4 linked regions of the Homo sapiens genome follow. The gene in region 1 interacts genetically with each later gene. Each region holds a gene or a part of one and is shown on either strand. Other genes may lie near its edges.

The links.
Region 2: changes in PTK6 (region 1) and GPI together harm fitness more than expected from each alone (negative genetic interaction), as found in Homo sapiens cells (one large-scale study listed by BioGRID).
Region 3: changes in PTK6 (region 1) and CRYBB1 together harm fitness more than expected from each alone (negative genetic interaction), as found in Homo sapiens cells (one large-scale study listed by BioGRID).
Region 4: changes in PTK6 (region 1) and CYP4F12 together harm fitness more than expected from each alone (negative genetic interaction), as found in Homo sapiens cells (one large-scale study listed by BioGRID).

Annotation. Positions count from the first base shown.
Region 1 is NC_000020.11:63,526,746-63,532,448, forward strand, and holds the end of PTK6 (protein-tyrosine kinase 6), read right to left. Parts: intron 4,183-5,703; coding exon 4,001-4,182; intron 3,487-4,000; coding exon 3,333-3,486; intron 2,979-3,332; coding exon 2,791-2,978; 3' UTR 1,256-2,790; downstream 1-1,255. UniProt on the Homo sapiens protein: Non-receptor tyrosine-protein kinase implicated in the regulation of a variety of signaling pathways that control the differentiation and maintenance of normal epithelia, as well as tumor growth.
Region 2 is NC_000019.10:34,370,953-34,376,717, forward strand, and holds part of GPI (glucose-6-phosphate isomerase), read left to right. Parts: intron 1-5,765. UniProt on the Homo sapiens protein: In the cytoplasm, catalyzes the conversion of glucose-6-phosphate to fructose-6-phosphate, the second step in glycolysis, and the reverse reaction during gluconeogenesis.
Region 3 is NC_000022.11:26,611,528-26,617,292, reverse strand, and holds part of CRYBB1 (beta-crystallin B1), read left to right. Parts: intron 1-954; 5' UTR 955-973; coding exon 974-1,153; intron 1,154-5,102; coding exon 5,103-5,221; intron 5,222-5,765. UniProt on the Homo sapiens protein: Crystallins are the dominant structural components of the vertebrate eye lens.
Region 4 is NC_000019.10:15,692,591-15,698,355, reverse strand, and holds the end of CYP4F12 (cytochrome P450 4F12), read right to left. Parts: intron 2,421-5,765; coding exon 2,287-2,420; intron 2,196-2,286; coding exon 2,131-2,195; exon of another isoform or gene 1,927-2,130; coding exon 1,844-1,926; intron 1,449-1,843; coding exon 1,271-1,448; 3' UTR 1,182-1,270; downstream 1-1,181. UniProt on the Homo sapiens protein: A cytochrome P450 monooxygenase involved in the metabolism of endogenous polyunsaturated fatty acids (PUFAs).

The sequences.
Region 1 (5,703 bases):
TCCCAGCATTTTGGGAGGCCGAGGTGGGTGGATCACCTGAGGTCGGGAGTTCGAGACCAACCTGACCAACGTGAAGAAACCCCATCTCTACTGAAAGTACAAAAATTAGCTGGGCGTGGTGGCGCATGCCTGTAATCCCAGCTACTCGGGAGGCTGAGGCAGGAGAATCACTTGAACCCGGGAGGCAGAGGTTGCCGTGAGCCGAGATCAAGCCATTGCACTCCAGCCTGTGCAATAAGAGCGAAACTCTATCTCAAAAAAAAAAAAAGAAAAAGAAATTTGTTGACTGTAGAGAGAAAAATTATGTTTCAAAATAAAACTCGTGCCCCCACTATTAGACTCTAGCCCGGTTTGCTGTCTGGAGGTTTTGTCGCCCACCTGTGGTCCGGACCGGGTCCTGAACTTCAGTTTCCTCCAATATTTGCCTACAGCTCACCAAACCACTCTTTCCAATTTTTTCTTCCACCATTCCTCATGGAGTCACTGAAAATTAAAACTGCTCTTTTCCCAAAGCCCTGTAAGCTGAAGCTGCCCCACTTGATACAGACTTCAGAGAAATTTCCCCAGCAACTCTCGTACAGACGGCTTTCGTGCCCAGGCTGGGCGCAGCAGCTCAGGCCTGTAGTCCCGAGGCAGGAGGATTGCTAGAGCCCAGGAGTTCGAGACCAGCCTGGGCAACATAGCAAGACCCTGAATCTCCTAAAAAAAAAAAAATTTAAAATTAGCCAGGTGTGGTGGTGCATTCCTGTAGTCCCAACTATTCAGGAGGCTGAGGCGGGAGGATCACTTGAGCCTGGGAATTCAAGGCTGCAATGAGCTGTGGTCACGCCACTGCGCTCCAGCCTGGGTGACAGAGCAAGACCCTGTCTTCAAAAACAAAAACAGAAACAAAAAACGTTTTCTTACATCTGGAAAACAAAATATTAAAGAACCGTAATGCTTCAGACAAAAGTCATTAAACAGTAAACATCCTCGTCAGTTCATTCATTCCCATGTCATTAATTCTTGTTCTGGTTGATCCTGGGACAGAACTTTCATGGACCTGCCAGGTCCCTCCTTCGAGTTCTGGAAATTTGCACCCAATCCAAGGCTATGACCTGAACCAGAAACCTGTGCTCCAGAGCACCTGTCAGAATCCTTCCCAGGAATCTCTTTGAAGAATAAACAATTTGGGACTAGCTGATTGCAAAGCTTTCAGAAAAAATCAAAGTAAGATAATAACTGTGAATGACCGAAGACTTAAGATAGCCATGGCTCAGGATCTGATGAGAGTTTATTATATTCGTGACACGGTTGGCAAGGAAACTTGGTTATTTCTGTGGCATGCAGCATTTTAATGTAATAACCAAAATTATGACTGATAACATTGCACCAGATTTCTAGGAATAGCATGTGAGATAGGATATATATCATAGGATAACGTATCAGATTTCTAGGAATTTTATAGAGTTTCTGCAACATTCATATCAAAACCAAACCCGTAAATAGAACCTCCAGAAGACTTAGTGTGACTTACTATTTCACACGCTTTCCATCTCATGTAGCACATCGGATAAGCCTGATTAGTCTGACATCTGTCTTTCACAAGGCAGAAGACAAATCCTTTTGAGAAATCCTAGTACCTTTCCAGAAACTCCCAAAATTATTTTTCTTTCTTTCTTTTTTTTTTTTTTTTTTTTGAGATGGAGTCTCGCTCTGTCGCCCAGGCTGGAGTGCAGTGGCGCGATCTCGGCTCACTGCAAGCTCCACCTCCCGGGTTCACACCAGTCTGCTGCCTCAGCCTCCCACGTAGCTGGGACTACAGGCGCCCACCCCCACCACCACACCCAGCTAATTTTTTGTATTTTTTAGTAGAGACGGGGTTTCACCGTGTTAGCCAGGATGGTGTCGATCTCCTGACCTCGTGATCCACCTGCCTCAGCCTCCCAAAGTGCTGGGATTACAGGCATGAGCCACCGTGCCCCGCCTATTCTTCTTTTAAACCAAAAAAACTTTCAGGTGAGTCAAAACCAAAACCAATAAGCTTTTTATGACTTAACCATGGATGAAAGAGACACCTTCAAAATCAGGTGCAAAGGAGGCAGCCCCCCCAGCCCGGAACCACCCCACAGACAGTAGAGAAGGGCCCTTGTCAGCGCAGGAGTGAGGGGCGCTTTCCAGCACTGACCCAGCGACAAAGGTGAAGGTGGGAAAAGCCCCTTGTGGACGTGGACGGTGAAACTGAGCTGGCGCCTCGGGCAGTGATGCTTGGGCTGGCAGAGACCAGGGAGAGAGTTCTCACTGGTCATAAGGCCAAGCTCTCAAGACACAAGACAAACAGGAAAGAAACACCTGCCCCTGGGAGGAAAGAACCCTTGAGCACCAAAACCAAATTTACATGAGCGTCCCGAGCCACGCGAATGACTTTCTCCCACCAAGCTGAACTGGGAAGAGCAGGAACAAGGCGTGTTTGCCTCCCACCCTCAGCCGGGCACTGCAGACAGACAGCCAGAGAGCGGGCTGTGGTCAGAGTCCCCTCTGACCTCTGCTGGCTTCGTGTCAGTCTCCCGGATCTCATCTGCAGGCTCCAGAGCAGGCTGCGTGTCAGCAGCTGAGACCCAAGGCACACACGATGGAGTAAGGAGAGGAGCACACGCGTGTATTGGACGCAGACACTCCACATTTGTGAACCTTTCCTGCACCCATCACCTCAGTAAACCCCAGGGAAGCGCGTGGGCCTTGATCCCAGGTCCAGGCCCTCTGCCCAGGCCCCTCCTCAGCAGGGCCCGGCCATGCCCGCTCCACAGCAGCTCAGGTCGGGTTCTCGTAGCTGGTGAAGCTGGAGAGCCTCTCCCGCAGGGCCTTGAAGCAGGGTCTCTGCTCGGGGTCCCTGCACCAGCATGTCAGCATCAGCTTGTGCACGCTGGGCGGGCACTCCAGAGGGCAGGGCATGCGGTAGCCGGCGTCCACCCTCAGGAAGGCCTCATGGTTGGACATGCCTGCGGCCGACAGGGATGAGAAGAGCTGGGGCCCACCTGCCTACCCTCCCCCAAGAAGCCACACCAGCCATCCACTGCCCCTTCCTGGGGCCTTCCCCGCAGCCTCAGCTGCCATGCCTTGGCGCCACCCAGCACACTGTCCACTGCTAACACCTCCCTCTGGACAGGGCTCCAACAGGCAGCTCCAGGCACCAGCCTGGGTGCTCAGAGAATGGTGCAGGTGTGGAGTTCAGGCGATGGCCCGCGGAGGGCCCTGAAGCCCGTGGGGGAGGCACCCCCCAGCGTCCCTGCCGGCTACCCAGGACCTCCCCCACTCTGCCTCTCATGCCCAGTCAGGGACAGTGGGGACAGTACCTGGGTAGGGCACCTGACCCCTGCTGAACATCTCATGCAGGAGAATCCCAAAGGACCAGACGTCGGATTTGGTGGAGTAATGGCCTCGGGAGAGCGCTTCAGGGGCCGTCCACTTGTAGGGGATATTGTGGTCATGGGAGAGGTAGACGTCCTCCTGCAATCAGCCTGGAGCTGAGTGGGCCGTGGGGGCTGCCTGTGCCCTGCCCCCGAAGCATGGACGGGCACAGCGGCCGCATTGCCCCAGCAGTGGGACGGTGATGACCCCACTGTCTGACCCACGCACGGCCGCTGCAGCTAAGGCCACACTGGGGCCTGACCACCTTCAGGAGCCCAACTTCCCCTGGGATTGCAGGTGTGTGGGGACCGGAGGGCCCGGGGGACAGGGAACTGGGAGGCTCCCAGGCCGTCAGAGGGGCCCAGGGCTGGGCCAGTGAACAAGGCACGTGAACAAGGCAGCGGCTGCGTGGTGGGCCCTGCTGTGCGTGCCATTCAGAATGGGGGCCCCACCGGACTCACGGTGGCTTCCCACCTCCCTGCCCAGCCTGGGCTCCCGAGGGCAGGGGCCGCATCCTGCTCCCAGCCGAGTCCCCAGCTCCACACACAGGAAGCCCCCAGCCCTCCGGCCACGCCCCGGCCACGACCCCAGCCACGCCCTCTGAGGGCCCTACCTTGATAAGCCTGGCTAACCCGAAGTCCCCAACTTTGCAGAGGGTGTTTTCCCCGACGAGGATGTTCCTGGCGGCCAGGTCCCGGTGGATGTAATTCTGCGACTCCAGGTAACACATGCCCTCAGCCACCTGCCAGGCGATGTCCAGCAGCTCCGAAACGGGCAGGACTTTCTCATCAGAGTCTGCAGAGGGGAGTGGAGCAGAGCCTGGGGTCAGCTGAGCCAGCTGAGGTGGGGAAGGGTTGGGGAGGCTGGGCCATGTCTCATCTGCCTCCAAGCTCTGCGGGCTCAGAGGAGGGGCCGGGGCAAAGGGCAGCTGGCCTGATTGAAAATTGGAACTGCAGGCCAGCTACCGCCCTTCTGGAAGGCAACTGTTTATCACGAACCAAGGAGCAAGCTGGGCGTGGTGGCTCACGCCTGTAATCCCAGCACTTTGAGAGGCTGAGGCGGATGGATCACGAGGTCAGGAGATCGAGACCATCCTGGCTAACACGGTGAAACCCCATCTCTACTAAAAATACAAAAAATTAGCCGGGCGTGGTGGCGGGCGCCTGTAGTCCCAGCTACTCGGGAGGCTGAGGCAGGAGAATGGCGTGAACCCGGGAGGCGGAGCTTGCAGTGAGCCGAGATCACGCCACTGCACTCCAGCCTGGGCGACAGAGCCAGACTCCGTCTCAAAAAAAAAAAAAAAAAATATATATATATATATATATATATATAATTAGCTGGGCGTGGTGACAGGTGCCTGTAATCTCAGCTACTCAGGTGGCTGAGGCAGGAGAATCATTTGAACCCAGGAGGTGGAGGTTACAGTGAGCCGAGACTGCGCCATTGCACTCCAGCCTGGGCGACAGAGTGAGACTCCGTCTCAAAAAAAAAAAAAAGAACCAAGGAGCAGTTCCTAGTGGTCTAGCCCAGCGATTTCCCTTCTGGAAGTTTGTGATGACGCGGGAGGAGCTGGACGCAGAAGGACCAGCGAAGAGGCTCATGACTGCGTGATGTAGGCAGTGGGAACTCGAACAGGAGAATGGCTGTCAGCGGCTTGCGGCCTGGTGGTGCCTGTTTTACCCCACATTCCCTCCCGGAGGACCCTGAAGGGCGTGGGGACTGTCTGAGATGATCAAGCCCTTTGTGTGAGGGCGAGGGGTACGGAGCCTTTCGCTCAGAGCGCAAACGTGCGTGGTGCCTCAGTGTAGCTCTCCTCAGACACACACGGCATTTTTCCTATACCACAACGTTCCCTCCCATTCTAACATCGGAATCCAAACTGCGCCTTCACGCACGGGCATCTCCATTCCCTGGCAGCGATTGTCTTTGGTTTTGGTGAGAAAGGAAATAATGGAACTTAGAGAGGATGAAGTCTTTGAGCCAATGTGATCTGTGTGTGTCTGTGTGTGTGTCTGGATCAGTGTGTGTCTGTGTGTGTGTGTGTCTGTGTGTGTCCGTGTGATCTGTGTGTGTGTCTGTGTGTGTCCGTGTGATCTGTTTTGTGTGTCTCTGTGTGTGTGTCTGTGTCTATGTGTATGTCTGTGTGTGTCATGTGATGTGTCTTGTGTGTGTGTCTGTGTGTGCATGTGTATGTCTGTGTGCATGTGTGTGTGCATGTGTGTCTGTGCGTGTGTGTCTCTGTGTGTCTGTGTCTGTGTCTGTGTGTGCATGTGTGTGTCTGTGTGTCTGTGTGTCTACGTGTGTGTGTGTGTAGAC
Region 2 (5,765 bases), on another chromosome or scaffold:
ATTTCCTGAATGTCACTTAGGGTGATCAGTCCATGTGATGGTCTTTGGGTGTGTGGCGGGGCCTTTCCAGCCATCTGCTGTGAGTGGCAGAGCTGAAGTGCATTAAAAGCCTAGTGCTGTGTGATCAGTCTGGGTGTGCTCAGCCATGCCACATGGCGAGGATGGCACTGCACCGTCTGGGGTGCTGTTTCCAGGAAAGCCTTCCCTTAAAGCTGGCCACTGGAGTACCTGACTCAGGCTGATAAGGTATTTATAGTTCAAAAAAAGTTGCTGAATGGCAGTAATCCCCTGGTGAGGAACATTCCCCATGGCTGTGCTCTCCAAAGTTTGCCAAGATTGGGTGAAGACGTTCACTGTGACCTTGATTGTAGTGGCAAAACCTGAAACCAAGCTGTACTCATTTGTCAGGGGACTTACAAAGTAGAGTCAGCACATATTCATATACTGTCATCCTGGGCACCAATAGGGATTAGGGAGCTATAGTTGGATTGATCTGCCATGCTGTTCAGGATGGACTGGGAAGTTGAAAAAGGAAGTTGCAGAATTGGTGGGTATGGTAAAGACTCATTTGGTCAAATGAAGGCTGGGTGTAATTGTAATAAAGATAGACACATTTGGCTTGGTGCAGTGGCTCACACCTGTAATCCCAGCACCTTGGGAGGCCGAGGTGGGTGGATCACGAGGTCAGGAGTTCAAGACAAGCCTGGCCAACATAATGAAACCCCATCTCTACTAAAAAAAAATACAAAAAAGTTAGCCTGGCATGGTGGTGCATGCCTGTAGTCCCAGCTACTCGGGAGGCTGAGGCAGGAGAATCACTTGAACCCCAGAGGTGGAGGTTGCAGTGAGCCAAGATCACGCCACTGCACTCCAGCTTGGGCAACAGAGTGAGACTTTGTCTCAAAAAGAAAAAAAAAAAGACACATTTTTCCTCTGGGATGCTTCATTATAACAAACCTTTGACAGTCGGGAAAGGAGACTTGCTTTTTTTTTTTTGAGACAGAGTCTTACTCTGTTGCCCAGGCTGGAGTGCAATGGCGAGTTCTCGGCTCACTGCAACCTCCGCCTCCCAGGTTCAAGCAATTCTCCTGCCTCAGCCTCCTGAGTAGCTGGGATTACAGGCATCCGCCACCACACCCAGCTAATTTTTGTATTTTTAGTAGAGATGAGGTTTCACCATGTTGGTCAGGCTGGTCTCGAACTCCTGACCTCAGGTGATCCACCCACCTTGGCCTCCCAGAGTCCTGGGATTACAGGCATGAGCCACCACACCCAGCCAAGACTTGCTTTTTCTAACCTCTTTTGTCACACGCCTGTGAGGGAGGGTTGAGAAGTTGAACAACTTATTTTATTTCTTTCTGTATTGATGGAAATTTTCCCATGGCAGTTTATTTAAAGAAAAAGTAGGGCCAGGCACAGTTGCTCACATCTGTAATCCCAGCACTTTGGGAGGCAGAGGCAAGAGGATTGCTTGAGGCCAGGAGTATAATACCAGCCTGGGCAACATAACAAGACCCTGCCTTTAACAAAAATTTAAAAATTAGCCAGCTGTGGTGGTGTGTACCTATAGTCCTGGCTGCTTAGGAGGCTGAGGCGGGAGAATTGCTTGAGCCCAGGAATTTGAAGCTGCAGTGAGCTATGATCATACTCCTACATTCCAGGTCGAGCAACAGAGCGAGACCCTGTCGTTAAAACAAAACTAAAAAATACCCAGCAAGGTGCAGTGGCTCTTGTATAATCCCAGCATTTTGGAAGGGTGAATCGGATCACTGCAGGCCAGGAGTTCAAGACTAGCTTGGGCAACCTAGACCCTGTCTCTTTTTTGTTTGTTTGTTTTTTGAGACAGAGTCTCTCTCTTTCACCCAGGCTGGAGTGCAATGGCCTGATCTCGGTTCACTGCAACCTCCGCCTCCCAGGTTCAAGCGATTCTCCTGCCTCAGCCTCCCGAGTAGCTGGGATTACAGGTACCTGCCACCACACCCAGCTAATTTTTGTGTTTTTAGTAGAGATGGAGTTTCACCATGTTGGCTAGGCTGGTCTCGAACTCCTGACTTCATAATCTGTCCACCTCAGCCTCCCAAAGTGCTGGGATTATAGGCGTGAGCCACCGTGCCCAGCCTATTTTTTTTTTTTAATTAAAAAATAATTTATAGTCTGGGTGCTGTGGCTCACACCTGTAGTCCTAGCACTTTGGGAGGCCGAGGTGGGCGGATCACTTCAGGTCAGGAGTTTGAGACCAGCCTGGCCTACATGGCAAAACCCGTCTCTACTAAAAATACAAACAAAATTAGCCAGGAGTAGTGGCAGGCGCCCATAATTCCAGCTACTCAGGAGACTGAGGCAGCAGTATCATTTGAACCCATGAGGTGGAGGTTACTGAGAGCTGAGATGGCGCCACTGCACTCCAGCCTGGGTGACAGAGCGAGACTCTGTCTCAAAAAAAAAAAAAAAATTTATAACTGGGCATGGTGGTGCATGCCGGTAGTCCCAGTTACTTGGGAGGCTGAGGCAGGAGAATCGCTTGAACCCGGGAGGTGGAGGTTTCAGTAAGCTGAGATAGCACCACTGCATGCCAGCCTGGGTGACAGAGCAAGATTCCATCTCCAAAAAAAAAAAAAAAAAAATTAAAAGAAAATTGCTGGATCTTATTAGTGTATAGTAATTTTTTATTGATGTGTGGGAAATTATTCCAAAATTTAGCAACTAGAAGCAACAATCACCGTCTCTTTATGTGGGGAATTTGCAGTGGCTGTGTTTGGTGTAGTGGCTCTGATATTCTAAGGTTGCAGTCAAGATGTTGGCTAAGGATGTGGTCATTTGAAGGCTTCATGGGGGTTGGAGGGTCTGCTTTGAAGATGGCTCACTAGCAGTGCTGCCTTTGGGAGGCACAGACAGTTCGAGTGTCCTCATGACAAGGCAGCTTATTTCTCCCAGAGTGAGTGATCCAATAGAGAGTAAGGCAGATGCCTGGAGGTCTTTTGTGACCTAATATCAGGATTCACATTCTTTCTTTTTTTTATTTTTATTTTTTTGAGACAGAGTTTCACTCTTGTCACCCAGGCCAGAGTACAATGGCGTGATCTTGGCTCACTGCAACCTCCGGTCCCCGGCTCAAGCGATTCTCCTGCCTTAGCCTCCTGAGTAGCTGGGATTACAGGTGCCCGCCACCATGCCCGCCTTTTTTTTTTTTTTTTTTTTTTTAAATTTTTTTAGTAGAGATGGGGTTTCACCATTTTGGCCAGGCTGGTCTTGAACTCCTGATCTCAAGTGATCCGCCTGCCTTGCCCTCCCAAAATGCTGGGATTACAGGGTGAACCACCACGCCCGGCTACACTCTTTGATTTCTATAATACCCCGTTGGTGTTACAGATCAGCTCTGGTCATCATGGGAAGGGACTGCATCAGTGGGTTAATGCCAGGAGACAAGGACCACTGGTCACCATCTTAGAAGGTGGGGGACTATCATAGTCCCGCTTCTGGCGCCTAGTGATTGATTTTGTTCCTTCCACACACAGATACCCCACTCACTTTCTCCTAAGTCCATATTCTGTTACAGTATTAGAAGTCTGTTAGAAGTCTAGAACCTCATTTTGTCAAGTACAGGTGTAGTAGTACCTGCATTTCCTTTAGTACAGTTCCTTTCAATCTGAAGACATGAGAATTTAAAGAGACAAATTACCCCTCACACACCCAGCATACAATGGTGAGGTGGGCATGGGATGACTGGTATGTATGGGATAATTATTTCTTTTCTTTTCTTTCTTTTTTCTTTTTTTCTTTGTTTTTTTTTTTTTTGAGGTAGGGTCTCACACTGTCGCCCAGGCTGGAGTGCAGTGGTGCAGTCACTGCTCACTGCAGCCTCGAACTCCTGGGCTCAAGCAATTCCCCACCTCAACCTTCTAAGTTGCTGGGACTACAGGCACATGTCACCATGCCTGGCTACTTTTTTATTTTTTGTAGAGATGACGTCTTGCTATGTTGCCCAGGCTAGTTTTAAACTCTTGGCCTCAAGTGATCCTCCTGCCTCAGTTTCCCAGTAAGTGCTGGGATTATAGGCATGAGCCACTGAGTCCGGCCTGCATATTTAGGTTTTTATTATGACCACACTGTACTTCTGATACCAAAATCTGTATTAGTTATCTATCATTGTATAACAAATGACATCAAAACTTGGGTTAAAACAGCAATACACTTTTTTTTTTTTTTTTAAGACGGAGTCTTGCTCTGTCGCCCAGGCTAGAGTGCAATGGCGTGATCTCCACTCACTGCAACCTCTGCCTCCTGGATTTAAGCAATTCTCCTGCCTCAGCCTCCCGAGTAGCTGAGATTACAGGCACACGCCACCATGCCTGGATAATTTTTGTATTTTTTTTTTTTAGCAGAGACGGGGTTTCACCATGTTGACTAGGCTGGTCTCGAACTCCTGACCTTGTGATCTGCCTGCCTTGGTCTCCCAAAGTGCCAGGATTACAGGTGTGAGCCACCATGCCCGGCCTAGCAGTAAACTTTTATTACCTCTCACAGTGTCTGTGGGTCAGAAGTTTGGGAGCGGCTTAGCTGGTTGGTCTTGGTTTGGGGATCTCTCATAAGGCTGTAGTCAACATGTTGGCCAGCGCCCCAGTTATCGGAAGTTTTGATGGGTTTGGAGGACCCCCCTCTAAAGTGTCCCATACACAGGAAGCGAGTTGGCTGTGACTTTTGGAAAAAGGCCTTAGTTCGCTGCCGCGTGGGCTTCTTTATGAAACTGTTTGAATGTCTTCACAACATGATAGACAGCTTCCCCAAAGCGAGTCATCCAAGAGAGCAAAGCAGAAACTGCACGTTCTCTGAACTCACTTCTGAAGTCACATTTCACCCCTTTTTGCAGTCTCTGGATGGGTGCATAGGTCACCCCTCCCAGCACAGGCGGAAGCTATGCAGAGGCATGAATTCCAGGAAGCAAGGATCACTGGTGTCTGATTGGAGACTGGCTGCGGGTCTGATACTCCTTTCCCCAGCATAGCCCAGTCACAGTTTTCAACATTTCACATCTCTTGGTCTCTGGCATAGCAGATTCTGCCGAGTTATCCCTGGTTTTGCAAATTCTGACAGTGTCGCTGTAAGGTAGGGATGTCTCACTGTTGTAACCAGGAAAGAGTCTAGTTGGTGGTGAGTGTGGCAGGGACCAGTGTGGTCTCCAGAGACTCCTATGCCTTGTGTAGTGGCTCACGCCTGTAATCCCAACACTTTGGGAGGTCAAGATGGGAGGATTATTTGAGGCCAGGAGTTAGAGACCAGGCTGGGCAACGTAGCAAGACGCTGTCTCTACAAAAAATAAAATAGGCTTTGCGTGGTGGCTCATGCCTGTAATCCAAGCGCTTTGGGAGGCCGAGGCAGGTGGATCACCTGAGGTCAGGAGTTTGAGACCAGCGTGGCCAACACGGCGAAACCCCATCTCTACTGGAAATACTAAAAATTAGCTGGGCAGGGTGGCAGGTGCCTGTAATCCCAGCTACTTGGGAGGCTGAGGCAGGAGAATTGCTTGAACCCTGGAGCCTGGAGGCGGAGGCTGCAGTGAGCTGAGATCGTGCCGTTGTACTCCAGCCTGGGCGACGGAGTGAGACCCTGTCTCAAAAAAAAAAAAAAAAAGGCTAAAGCAGAGCATTTTGTTCTGTTTTTGGAGTCAGGGTCTTCCTCTGTCACCTAGGCTGGAGGTGCAGTGTTGCGATCTTGGCTTGCTGCAGCCTCAACTTCCTGGACTCAAGCAATCCTCCTGTCTCAGCCTT
Region 3 (5,765 bases), on another chromosome or scaffold:
ATTTTTGTCCGGGGACAAAGTTGAGGTATTCATCAAACATTCAAAGGAGTCCACGACCCCAAAGCAACAAGGAACCACTGGAATTGACCAAAGCCCTCTCCACCCAAAGCCTACCCAGCCCCAGTCCTCATTTTCAGAACCCTCCACATGCAGTAAATACATCCTCTTGGGTCCTCCCATAAGCCTCAGTCCCCGGCCTGTATTTGCACCCATACACCAACCCCTCAGAGGAAGCAGACGGGGAAAGGAGCTGGGAGCATGCATTCATTCATTCTCTGAACAAATGTTAATTGGGCATCTCCTATGTGCCAGGTGCAGAGCAAGTGTTAGGGATGGACGGTGAATAAATCAGATTAAGCAAATGGCAGAATACTTTAAAAGCCCAGTTGCTGGCTCCATTTCCTTGAGTTGAAATCAGAGCCCTACCACTTAGTAGCTGTTTGGGCCTGAGCTGGGCCCCTTCCTTCTCCAGCCCCCTGCTGCTCAGAGGGGATCATGATAGCAGCTACTCCATCGGGTGAGGTTCATGGTCAGATGGGTTAATTAATGTATGTCACAGTGCCTGGCACACCTTAAGTACTCCCAAATGGGACTTCTTGTTATTAGTCTAGGGAGGCAAATTGGAGTTGCACAAGCAAATCAGTGTGATAAGCAGTGTGGAAAATTGCAGGGGGCTAAGGAAGGACCTAGCGGGGTAATGGAGGGTGGAACAGCTAGTGGAGGGAACCGCATGGTCAAAAGCCTGGAGGAAGGATATATGTGGGATGAGTGGCCCCCAGACGGGAAGGTCTTGGCTGGGAAGTAGGGATGAAAGAAAAACTTCCAGGCTTAACCGTTTCAGAAGGAGATAGAGAGGAAACGAGCTCCAAGGAGGCTGAAAGCACAGGATGTGGGGCTATGAGGGCAGGAGGCAGTTTGGGGGTGTCATCCCTGAAGGCCAGAGTTTCTTTACAGACTTTTGCAGGCGGGAACCATGTCTCAGGCTGCAAAGGCCTCGGCCTCGGCCACAGTGGCGGTGAACCCAGGGCCTGACACCAAGGGGAAGGGGGCCCCACCTGCAGGAACATCCCCTAGTCCCGGCACTACCCTGGCCCCAACAACCGTGCCTATTACCAGCGCCAAGGCGGCGGAACTGCCTCCTGGGAACTACAGGGTAAGGACCTGGGGGTGCAGTGGCTGGGTGCCATGCCTTCTTTCCTTCCTTCCCTCCTCCTCCTTCTTCTCCTCCTCCTCTTCCTCTTTCACCTCTTACTCCTCCGCACCTCTTTCTCCTCCTTTTTCTTGGCTTATTTTCTCTCCTTTCTATTTACTCTCCCTTTTCTTCTTCTCCACCTCCCCAGACTCTTATCCTCTGTCCCTATTCTCTTTTTCCCTCACCTTGGCCTCCTCCTCCCTCCTCCTTCTGGGACACAAGTGTGGCCCAGCCAATCTGGGAGCCCATAAAATAGCCAGGGGTTCTGACACACTTGGAGAAAGTGGGGCCGGGCGCAGTGGCTCATGCCTGTAATCCCAGCACTTTGGGAGGCCGAGGCAGGTGGATCACCTGAGGTCAGGAGTTCGAGACCAGCCTGGCCAACATGGTGAAACCCTGTCTCTACTAAAAATACAAAAATTAGCCAGGCGTAGTGGTGGGCGCCTGTAATCCCAGCTACTTGGGAGGCTGAGGCAGGAGAATCACTTGAACCCAGGAGGCGGAGGTTGCAGTGAGCTGAGATCATGCCACTGCACTCCAGCCTGGGCAACAGAGGGAGACTCCATCAAAAAAAAAAAGAAAAGAATAGAAAGAAAAAGGGGACCTATAGTTGAGTTGTGCAATAACAACAACCAAACCATACCGCTTCACAGCTGAAGGGACACCTGGCAATCAGGCTACACCTGCACACGCACATGCTTAGAGTTTATCGAAAGCAAGAAAAAAAAAGAAGAAAAGGAAGTGGGCTGGCTTAGCAGCAGGGAACCAGCTGTCCTTGGAGGCTCACTGGGGCAGCAGGATGGCCTCAGACCCTCAAAATTGCTCGAGGTGGTCTGGGCTGAAAGGCATCCTGTGGAGCAAGGTGTCCAGTCCCCTGGGATTTGGTTTGGTGTGGTTTCAACCTCAGGTCACAGAAGTAGGCCATTTTGCAACCCCTAGTTCATGACACGCTCTCATGTGGTCAGTGCGTGGCAGGTTTTTATTTATGTACCTATTTAATCATTAGTTTTATTTAATTTCTAATAATGCAATATGCACCTACAAACCCACCACCCATATAAAAGCCAGGACTTGGTTAAAAACTTTCTACCTAACTCTAAGGTGTCTCCCTTGAGTCCATCATTTTCCTCCCCAACTCCAGGAAATACTGTCCTATCCTCAACCTGTGTCTGTAATCTGCTTGCTTGCTTTTGTATACAATTTTATGCATTATTCCTTTAAAAATGTATACACACATACACATGTATATTTATTTACTTGTTTTATTTATTCATTTATTTTGAGACCGAATTATGAGACGGGTTTTGCCATATTATCCAGGCTGGTCTCGAACTCCTAGCCTCCGCCTCCCCAAGTGCTGGAATTATAGGTGTGAGCCACCGCAACTGGCCGATTTACTTGTTTTTAATTTATTGAAATATGCAATGTGATTATTCTGGGCTTTTCTTTGTACTTTTCACTTACTATGAGATCCCTAATATCCATCCATATTGTTGCGCATGACTGCCGGCCATTCATTCTGGCTGCTGCCTGATATTTCAGAGCGTGACCATCTCTTTCCTGCTAAGCACGATTTCAGTGGTTGCTAGCTTTGCTCTCGTGAACAGCATGGCTTGGACGTTCTTATCCCTGTCTCCTGGTATCGGGGAACCTGCCCCGATATTCACATAGATTCTTTTCTATTTTTCCTAAGCGTCGGCCAGCTTGAGAAATAAAGGGACAGAGTACAAAAGAGAAAAATTGTAAAGCTGGGCGTCCGGGGGAGACATCACATGTCAGTAGGTTCCGTGATGCCCCACAAGCTGCAAAAACCAGCAAGTTTTTATTAGGGAGTTTCAAAAGGGGAGGGAGTGTGAGAATAGGTGTGGGTCACAGACATCAAGTACTTTACAAGGTAATAGAATATCACAGGGCAAGTGGAGGCAGGGAGAGATCACAGGATCACAGGACCGGGGCAAAATTAAAATTGCTAATGAAGTTTTGGGCACCATTGTCATTGATAACATCTTATCAGGAGACAGGGTTTTGAGATCAACCGGTCTGGCCAAAATTTATTAGGCAGGAATTTCCTCTTCCTAATAAGCCTGGGAGAGCTATGGGAGACTGGAGTCTATCTCATCTCTGCAGCGTCGACCATAAGAGACGACCACGCCCAGGGGGGCCAGTTTAGAGACCTAACCCCAGGTGCGCATTCTCTTTCTCAGGGATGTTCCATGCTGAGAAAAAGAATTCAGCGATATTTCTCCCATTTGCTTTTGAAAGAAGAGAAATATGGCTCTGTTCTGCCCGGCTCACTGGCGGTCAGAGTTTAAGGTTATCTCTCTTATTCCCTGAACAATTGCTGTTATCCTGTTCTTTTTTAAGGTGCCCACATTTCATATTGCTCAAACACACATGCTGTACAATTTGTGCAGTTAATGCAATTATCACACGGTCCTGAGGCGACATACATCCTCCTCAGCTGACAGGATTAAGAGATTAAAGTAAAGACAGGCATAGGAAAGCACAAGGGTATTGATTGGGGAAGTGATAAGTGTCCATGAAATCTTTACAATTTATGTTTACAGATTGCAGTAAAGACAGGCATAAGAAATTACAAAAGTATTAATTTGGGGAACTAATAAATGTCCATGAAATCTTCACAATCCACGTTCTTCTGCCATGGCTTCAGCCAGTTCCTCCGTTTGGGGTCCCTGACTTCCCGCAACATCCCGGGGCACACATACAGGAGTTTCTCTTGGGCAACCAAAGGTAGAAGTGGAAGTGCTGGGTCATGGTTATATGAACCTCCCCTCCTCTTACAGCTGGGGAAACTGAGGCTCAAAGAAGGCAGAAAATTGTGCCTTGGTCCATGTGAATGGCAACGTTGTCCCAACTTGGAACAGCAAGTGGACAAGGAACCAAACATGAGGCTTAGTGAGGAGAGAAGATTAGCTCAAGTTTTCCCCTATGTTGTGGAGGGTTGGATTTGCAAGTGTCTCCTGAGCATCAGCTCTGTGGCAGGTACTGGGGCTGGGGCTGGAGATACAGAAATTGATCAACCTCAGGCCCTGCCCTGGAGGAGTCCTTGGTCTTTGGAGGGGCTGGGTAATGGGAGAGAGGGAGTGCAGAGAGAGAGGGAGACCCCAAAGCAAAACAGCAGTGACTGTGTGGTGGGTTAGTTGTGCTGCTAATGGGGAGAGGACAGTGGGGGATGCTCAACCAAGGCCGATGGAGGAAGGGGCAATCAGAGAAGGCTTCCTGGAGAAGGTGGCACCTGAGCCTAAAACAGAATAACGAGCTGGAATGCGTATTAGGGAACTTCAGTTAGGCAGTGGGAGCTCCAAGCTGGATATGTGTGGTGGAGAAGGCATTCCAGGCAGGAGGAATAGCACAAAGAAAGGCCTGAAAGGGAGGTTCATAAGTTCCTAATGATGGCGCAGATCTTAGCTTCAGAATTAGGGCATGAGGCCAGGTGCAATGGCTCATGCCTGTAATCCCAACACTTTGGGAAGCCAAGGCAGGCCAATCATTTGAGCTCAGGAATTCGAGACCAGCCTGAGCAACATGGCAAAATCCTGTCTCTACAAAAAATAGCCAGGCATGGTGGTGGGTGCCTGTAATCTCAACTACTCGGAGGCTGAGGTGGGAGGATCGCTTGAGCCTGGGAGGCGGAGGTTGCAGTGAGCCATGATTGCGCCACTGAACTTCAGCTGGGGCGACAGAGTGAGACTCAGAAAAACAAACAAACAAACAAAAAACAAAAATCAGTAAAGAATTGGGGGATGGGAGGACAGGATCATTTCACAAACTGTGGCTCATCACACTTTTATGTGACTCCTGCACTGCTGGCTTTTATTTATGTAGATACTTAATGAATTTTTGACTCCCCCCTCACTCTGCCCTTGGCATGGGGGCTTCTCTCCTGCAGCTGGTGGTCTTCGAACTGGAAAACTTCCAGGGCCGTCGAGCAGAATTCTCGGGGGAGTGCTCAAATCTGGCAGACCGTGGCTTCGACCGTGTGCGCAGCATCATTGTCTCCGCGGGACCGTGAGTACTGGGCGGCGGAGGGGCACACTCTCTGCCACAGTAAAATGACCACACAACAGTAGCTGCCATTTCTCCAGCATCTGCTCTGTGCCTGCGGCCGTTCGTACTCCTGGCACATACATTATGTCCAATCCTCATATCAAACTGAAGAGGGAGGAATTGTTCTCAATCTCATTTTACGGATGAGGAAACTGAGGCTCGGAGAGGTGATCCAATTAGCATAAGATCACACTGGCAGTAAGCCATGGTTCTGGGCTCTGGAGAAATGCTGCTTCTACTATAGCAAAAACTCTAGCCCGGCCGGGCGCGGTGGCTCACGCCTGTAATCCCAGCACTTTGGGAGGCCGAGGCGGGTGGATCACGAGGTCAGGAGATCGAGACCATCCTGGCTAACAAGGTGAAACCCCGTCTCTACTAAAAATACAAAAAATTAGCCGGGCGTGGTGGCGGGCGCCTGTAGTCCCAGCTACTCGGGAGGCTGAGGCAGGAGAATGGCGTGAACCCGGGAAGCGGAGCTTGCAGTGAGCCGAGATTGCGCCACTGC
Region 4 (5,765 bases), on another chromosome or scaffold:
AACATTAACTGAGGCTTCTTTCCTTCTCCTACCACCTTGCACTTTCAGGTGCCCGCAACCAGTCTTAGAAAAAATTGCCTCCTAAATGCACAGCCCTCTAAAAGGCAAGAGATTATTCAAGGAGCACAAATATTACAATTTTTGCCTGTAAGTTCCAAGACAGTCTTTAAAGTCGTGGTAGAAAAAAACTATCTTGAAAGGCAACATGGTTTATTAGCCAGACTTTCTCAGAGAGGAGGTAATAATGGCCACATTTATTAAGCATCCAATATGCACCAGGCAACAAGTTCTGAGTTCTCCACATTTTGTCCTCAGGACAACCCTGAGTTAGGTAGTGTTGTTGCCCACATTATATGTTTGAGGAAACTGAAGTGCATAGAGGGGAATTAACTTACTCAAGTCACACAGCAAAGATGAGACTTCAGCCCAACAGTCTGGCTCCAGATCCCATACCTTTGGGATGGTGTTCTGTTTCCAGTCATCTGTCTTTGAATCTCAAGGGTCAAACAGGATGTTCCTGACTGCACCCCACCCCAAGATGGGTCAGTGATGGGAATGAAGGAGGAATCTAGAGGTGAAAGGGTGAAGACGTGCCCAACCCCTGACACTTGTGAGAGTGCCTGGCACATAGCAGAAGAGAGTAGGGGGAGGATTCAGATAGCAGCTGATGGACAAGCAGCCTGGGCAGAGTCAGAGGGCTCAAAAGAGGAAAAATAGGAGCTGCCTGAAGTTAGGGAAAGGGGTCACAAAAGCGATCAACTGGAAGGGGGAGACATAGGGTGGGACATTAGCAAGAAAGGAAACAGAACTCCTGAGAGCCTGCCAGGGTATAAGCTGCACCCTTCTATCCTTGTGTTCTGAACTGGCCAGGGACCTCGGTCTTGGGACACTCCCAGACCAAAAGAAAGGATCTGCCCCTATGGTTGCTTCTCACTTAGCCTCAGTCGTACCTCTTAAATCCGTTCTTAATCCTGGTCCCTCTCCTGCTCAAAAACCTCCCATGGCTCCACATTGTCCACAGGATAAAGTCCATACTTGGGCTCTGAGAGACCCTGCTATAAGCATGGAGGCCCTATGCTCAGCCAAAGAGGCAGTCAGGTTCTTGGTTTCAGGGAAAACATCCCGCCTAACCCACCCAGGTTAGGCCCCTTCCCTGAAGCCTCCCAGTCCCCAAGAGCCCCCTGCAGGCTGTCAGTGAGGCCCAGGCAGAGGTGACAGCACCGTTTTATTCATGACAATCTGCAAAAAAACAGGTGGATGGGTCAGAAAGTCACTGCAAGCTTACATTCAGGGGCTCCACCCGCAGCCAAAGCCCGCCCTCGGCGCGCATGATCAATTCCAGCTTCCTGCGGGGCTCAGTGTGGTCTGGCAGGAACCGGAAGTGCAGCAGCATCAACGCCAGGACCACTTTCATCTCCGCCATGGCGAACGCCTGCCCGATGCAGTTCCTGCAGGCGGGAGTGGGGACTGTGACTGTGCCCAAGACCCGCATTTGGGTCCCATCAACCCAGGAACCTGGCCTGGGACCCCCAACTGCACCCAGCTCAGCCTGAGAGAGAGAGAGAAAGACTAAGCGTGCCTGGGACTCCCATGTGGGCTTGTATGTCCCGGAGACTGGGCCTGACTCCAGCTCCCAGCTCAGACCAGCAGATGGAGAAGGGGATTTTGAGCACTCCGCGGACCCCTCTAGGACCTACTCATCCCCATTCTATGGACGTTTTCCCATAAACTGTGAAGGAATGGAGGGAAGGAGAGCTGGAACTGGGACCATCTGCAACGTCCCCCTTTTTTTAACTCCCGCACCCATCATCCCATCCCTGCCTCAGACACAGGGCGCTCTTACCTGGGCCCTGCGGAGAAAGGAATAAAAGCCAGAGGTGACCTCCCCTTGCTGTTCTCTGGGTCAAAGCGGAAGGGGTCGTAGACCTGCAGGTGAGACAAAGAAGGTTTGCCAGTGGGATTTCCTATGTCCAGCAGCCTTGGAGAGACACTTGTGTGTGTTTTGGGGTGAGGTGATGTTGGATTTTCCTCATCAAAACCCTGCCCCCTCCACTAGGAACCTTGGAATTCACACACACACACACAAAAGTAGAGGATGGGGGTGGTGGTGGTGAATGGGGAAGGCAGCACCTCAGGATCCGGCCACACAGTTGGGTTGTGATGGACCCCTATAATATCGATGAGGCAGGTAATGCCTGTGGGAGAGAAAGGGGCAGTCAGGACAAGGATCCCCTGAGGGAACCATCTTCCTACCCGGGAGGCTTCTCCCCCTGAGGCTGTGGGCACCTTTGGGGATGACTCGGCCATCTGGGAGAACAATGTCCTGGGTGCAGCATCGGGAGATGAAGGGAGCTGGGGGATGTAACCTCAGGCTCTCCTTCACGCACATGGTCAGGAAGGGCAGCTGGGCCAGGTCGTCCCTAAGGAAACACCCCAGCCCCAGTCATTATCAAGGGAACAAATACACAACTCTCCACCTTTTCTATTTGCAAATGAGACCTTTTCTCCCTATCACAAAATAAACTCCACGGGGATCAAACATTTGAGAATTTTAAAAAGCAGAAAACAATTAGAGAAGCAGAGAATTAGAAAAGTACCAGAGAAAATTTAGCCAAATAGATAAAAATAAATACTCTGAGGAAAACACCCAGAAGCCAGCGGTAAAAAATTAACAAACTCACATAAAAATAAATATTGTCTATGGCAAGAAAGCAAACTCAAATGCAAATGAATAACAAACAAAATACCCAGATCCAATGTTTTGCTCTTATTTAGCGTGATGCTAGAGATACCAGCAAGTGCAATTAGGCAAGGGAAAAAAGGAGAGTCATGCAATTTGTTTTTTTTTTTTTATTATTATTATACTTTTAGGGTACATGTGCACAATGTGCAGGTTAGTTACATATGTATACATGTGCCATGCTGGTGTGCTGCACCCATTAACTCATCATTTAGCATTAGTTATATCTCCTAATGCTATCCCTTCCCCCTCCCCCCACCCCACAACAGTCCCCAGAGTGTGATGTTCCCCTTCCTGTGTCCATGTGTTCTCATTGTTCAATTCCCACCTATGAGTGAGAACATGCGGTGTTTGGTTTTTTTGTCTTTGCGATAGTTTACTGAGAATGATGATTTCCAATTTCATCCATGTCCCTACAAGGGACATGAACTCATCATTTTTTATGGCTGCATAGTATTCCATGGTGTATATGTGCCACATTTTCTTAATCCAGTCTATCATTGTTGGACATTTGGGTTGGTTCCAAGTCTTTGCTGTTGTGAATAGTGCCGCAATAAACATACATGTGCATGTGTCTTTATAGCCGCATGATTTATAGTCCTTTGGGTATATACCCAGTAATGGGATGGCTGGGTCAAATGGTATTTCTAGTTCTAGATCCCTGAGGAATCGCCACACTGACTTCCACCATGGTTGAACTAGTTTACAGTCCCACCAACAGTGTAAAAGTGTTCCTATTTCTCCACATCCTGTCCAGCACCTGTTGTTTCCTGACTTTTTAATGATTGCCATTCTAACTGGTGTGAGATGGTATCTCATTGTGGTTTTGATTTGCATTTCTTTGATGGCCAGTGATGGTGAGCATTTTTTCATGTGTTTTTTGGCTGCATAAAGTGTTGGAAGTTCTGGCCAGGGCAATTAGGCAGGAGAAGGAAATAAAGGTTATTCAATTAGGAAAAGAAGACGTCAAATTGTCCCTGTTTGCAGATGACATGATTGTATATCTAGAAAACCCCATTGTCTCAGCCCAAAATCTCCTTAAGCTGATAAGCAACTTCAGCAAAGTCTCAGGATACAAAATCAATGGACAAAAATCACAAGCATTCTTATACACCAATAACAGACAAACAGAGAGCCAAATCATGAGTGAACTCCCATTCACAACTGCTTCAAAGAGAAGAAAATACCTAGGAATCCAACTTACAAGGGACGTGAAGGACCTCTTCAAGGAGAACTACAAACCACTGCTCAATGAAATAAAAGAGGGTGCAAAGAAAGGGAAGAACATTCCATGCTCATGGGTAGGAAGAATCAATATCATGAAAATGGCCATACTGCCCAAGATAATTTATAGATTCAATGCCATCCCCATCAAGCTACCAATGACTTTCTTCACAGAATTGGAAAAAACTACTTTAAAGTTCATATGGCACCAAAAAGGAGCCCGCATCGCCAAGTCAATCCTAAGCCAAAAGAACAAAGCTGGAGGCATCATGCTACTTGACTTCAAACTATACTACAAGGCTACAGTAACCAAAACAGCATGGTACTGGTACCAAAACAGAGATCTAGATCAATGGAACAGAACAGAGCCCTCAGAGTTAATGCCACATGTCTACAACTATCTGATCTTTGACAAACCTGAGAAAAACAAGCAATGGGGAAAGGATTCCCTGTTTAATAAATGGTGCTGGGAAAACTGGCTAGCCATATGTAGAAAGCTGAAACTAGATCCCTTCCTTACACCTTATACAAAAATTAATTCAAGATGGAATAAAGACTTAAACGTTAGACCTAAAACCATAAAAACCCTAGAAGAAAACCGAGGCATTACCATTCAAGACATAGACATGGGCAAGGACTTCATGTCTAAAACACCAAAAGCAATGGCAACAAAAGCCAAAATTGACAAATGGGATCTAATTAAACTAAAGAGCTTCTGCACAGCAAAAGAAACTACCATCAGAGTGAACAGGCAACGTACAAAATGGGAGAAAATTTTCGCAACCTACTCATCTGACAGAGGGCTAATATCCAGAATCTACAATGAAGTCAAACAAATTTACAAGAAAAAAACAACTCCATCAAAAAGTGGGCGAAGGACATGAACAGACACTTCTCAAAAGAAGACATTTATGCAGCCAAAAAAACACGAGAGTCAGGCAATTTGAAATGTGGTAGTAAATGTATCATTTTGGCAGATAGTGATTTTATACTTAGAAAACACTAGAGGCCCCACTGGAAAACGTTTATAAACATTTAAGATCAAGCAAAGGAGCTGAATTCTCTGCTTAATCTTTCTTCTTTTGCAGTGGCTATTTAAAATTTTCATACCGTCTACAATTATCTGGTTCAGAATTTGAAAACTATAAAACATAATTCACTCCTATGGCCCAATGCCATTTACTTCTCCCCACACGTTGCCAGGTTATTATTTTTTTTAATGTATGCTTTCTGGGCTGATTTTAAGCATCTTAAAAAATTATATAGGAGCACACCATCTACTGTAGACACTATTCTGTATCTTTTTTGATGGGGGGAGGGAATGGAGTCTCTGTTGCTCAGGCTGGAGTGCAGTGACACAATCTTGTCTCACTGCAACCTCCACCTCCCTGGTTCAAGTGATTCTACTGCCTCAGCCTCCCAAGTAGCTGGGACTACAGGCATTCACCACAACAGCCAGCTAATTTTTTTTTTTATTTTTAGTAGAGATGGAGTTTCCCCAATTTGGCAAGGCTGGTCTTGAACTCCTGATCTCAAGTGATCTGCCCACCTTGGCCTCACAAAGTACTGGGATTACAGTCATGAACCACCGTGGCTGGCGTGTATCTTTTCTCTCATTTAACAGTTTATCACTTTTTCATAGCCCCTGGGACTTACGTCAAAATAAGGTTATCCCTACTCTGGCGCTATGAAATAATTTTCTCATGGTTCCTTCTAGAGCTTTTAGGACTCTTTTAGAAAAAAATGATTAATCTGAACATTATCTTGTCATAAGATATGAGAACAAGGTTCAGTTGCCTTT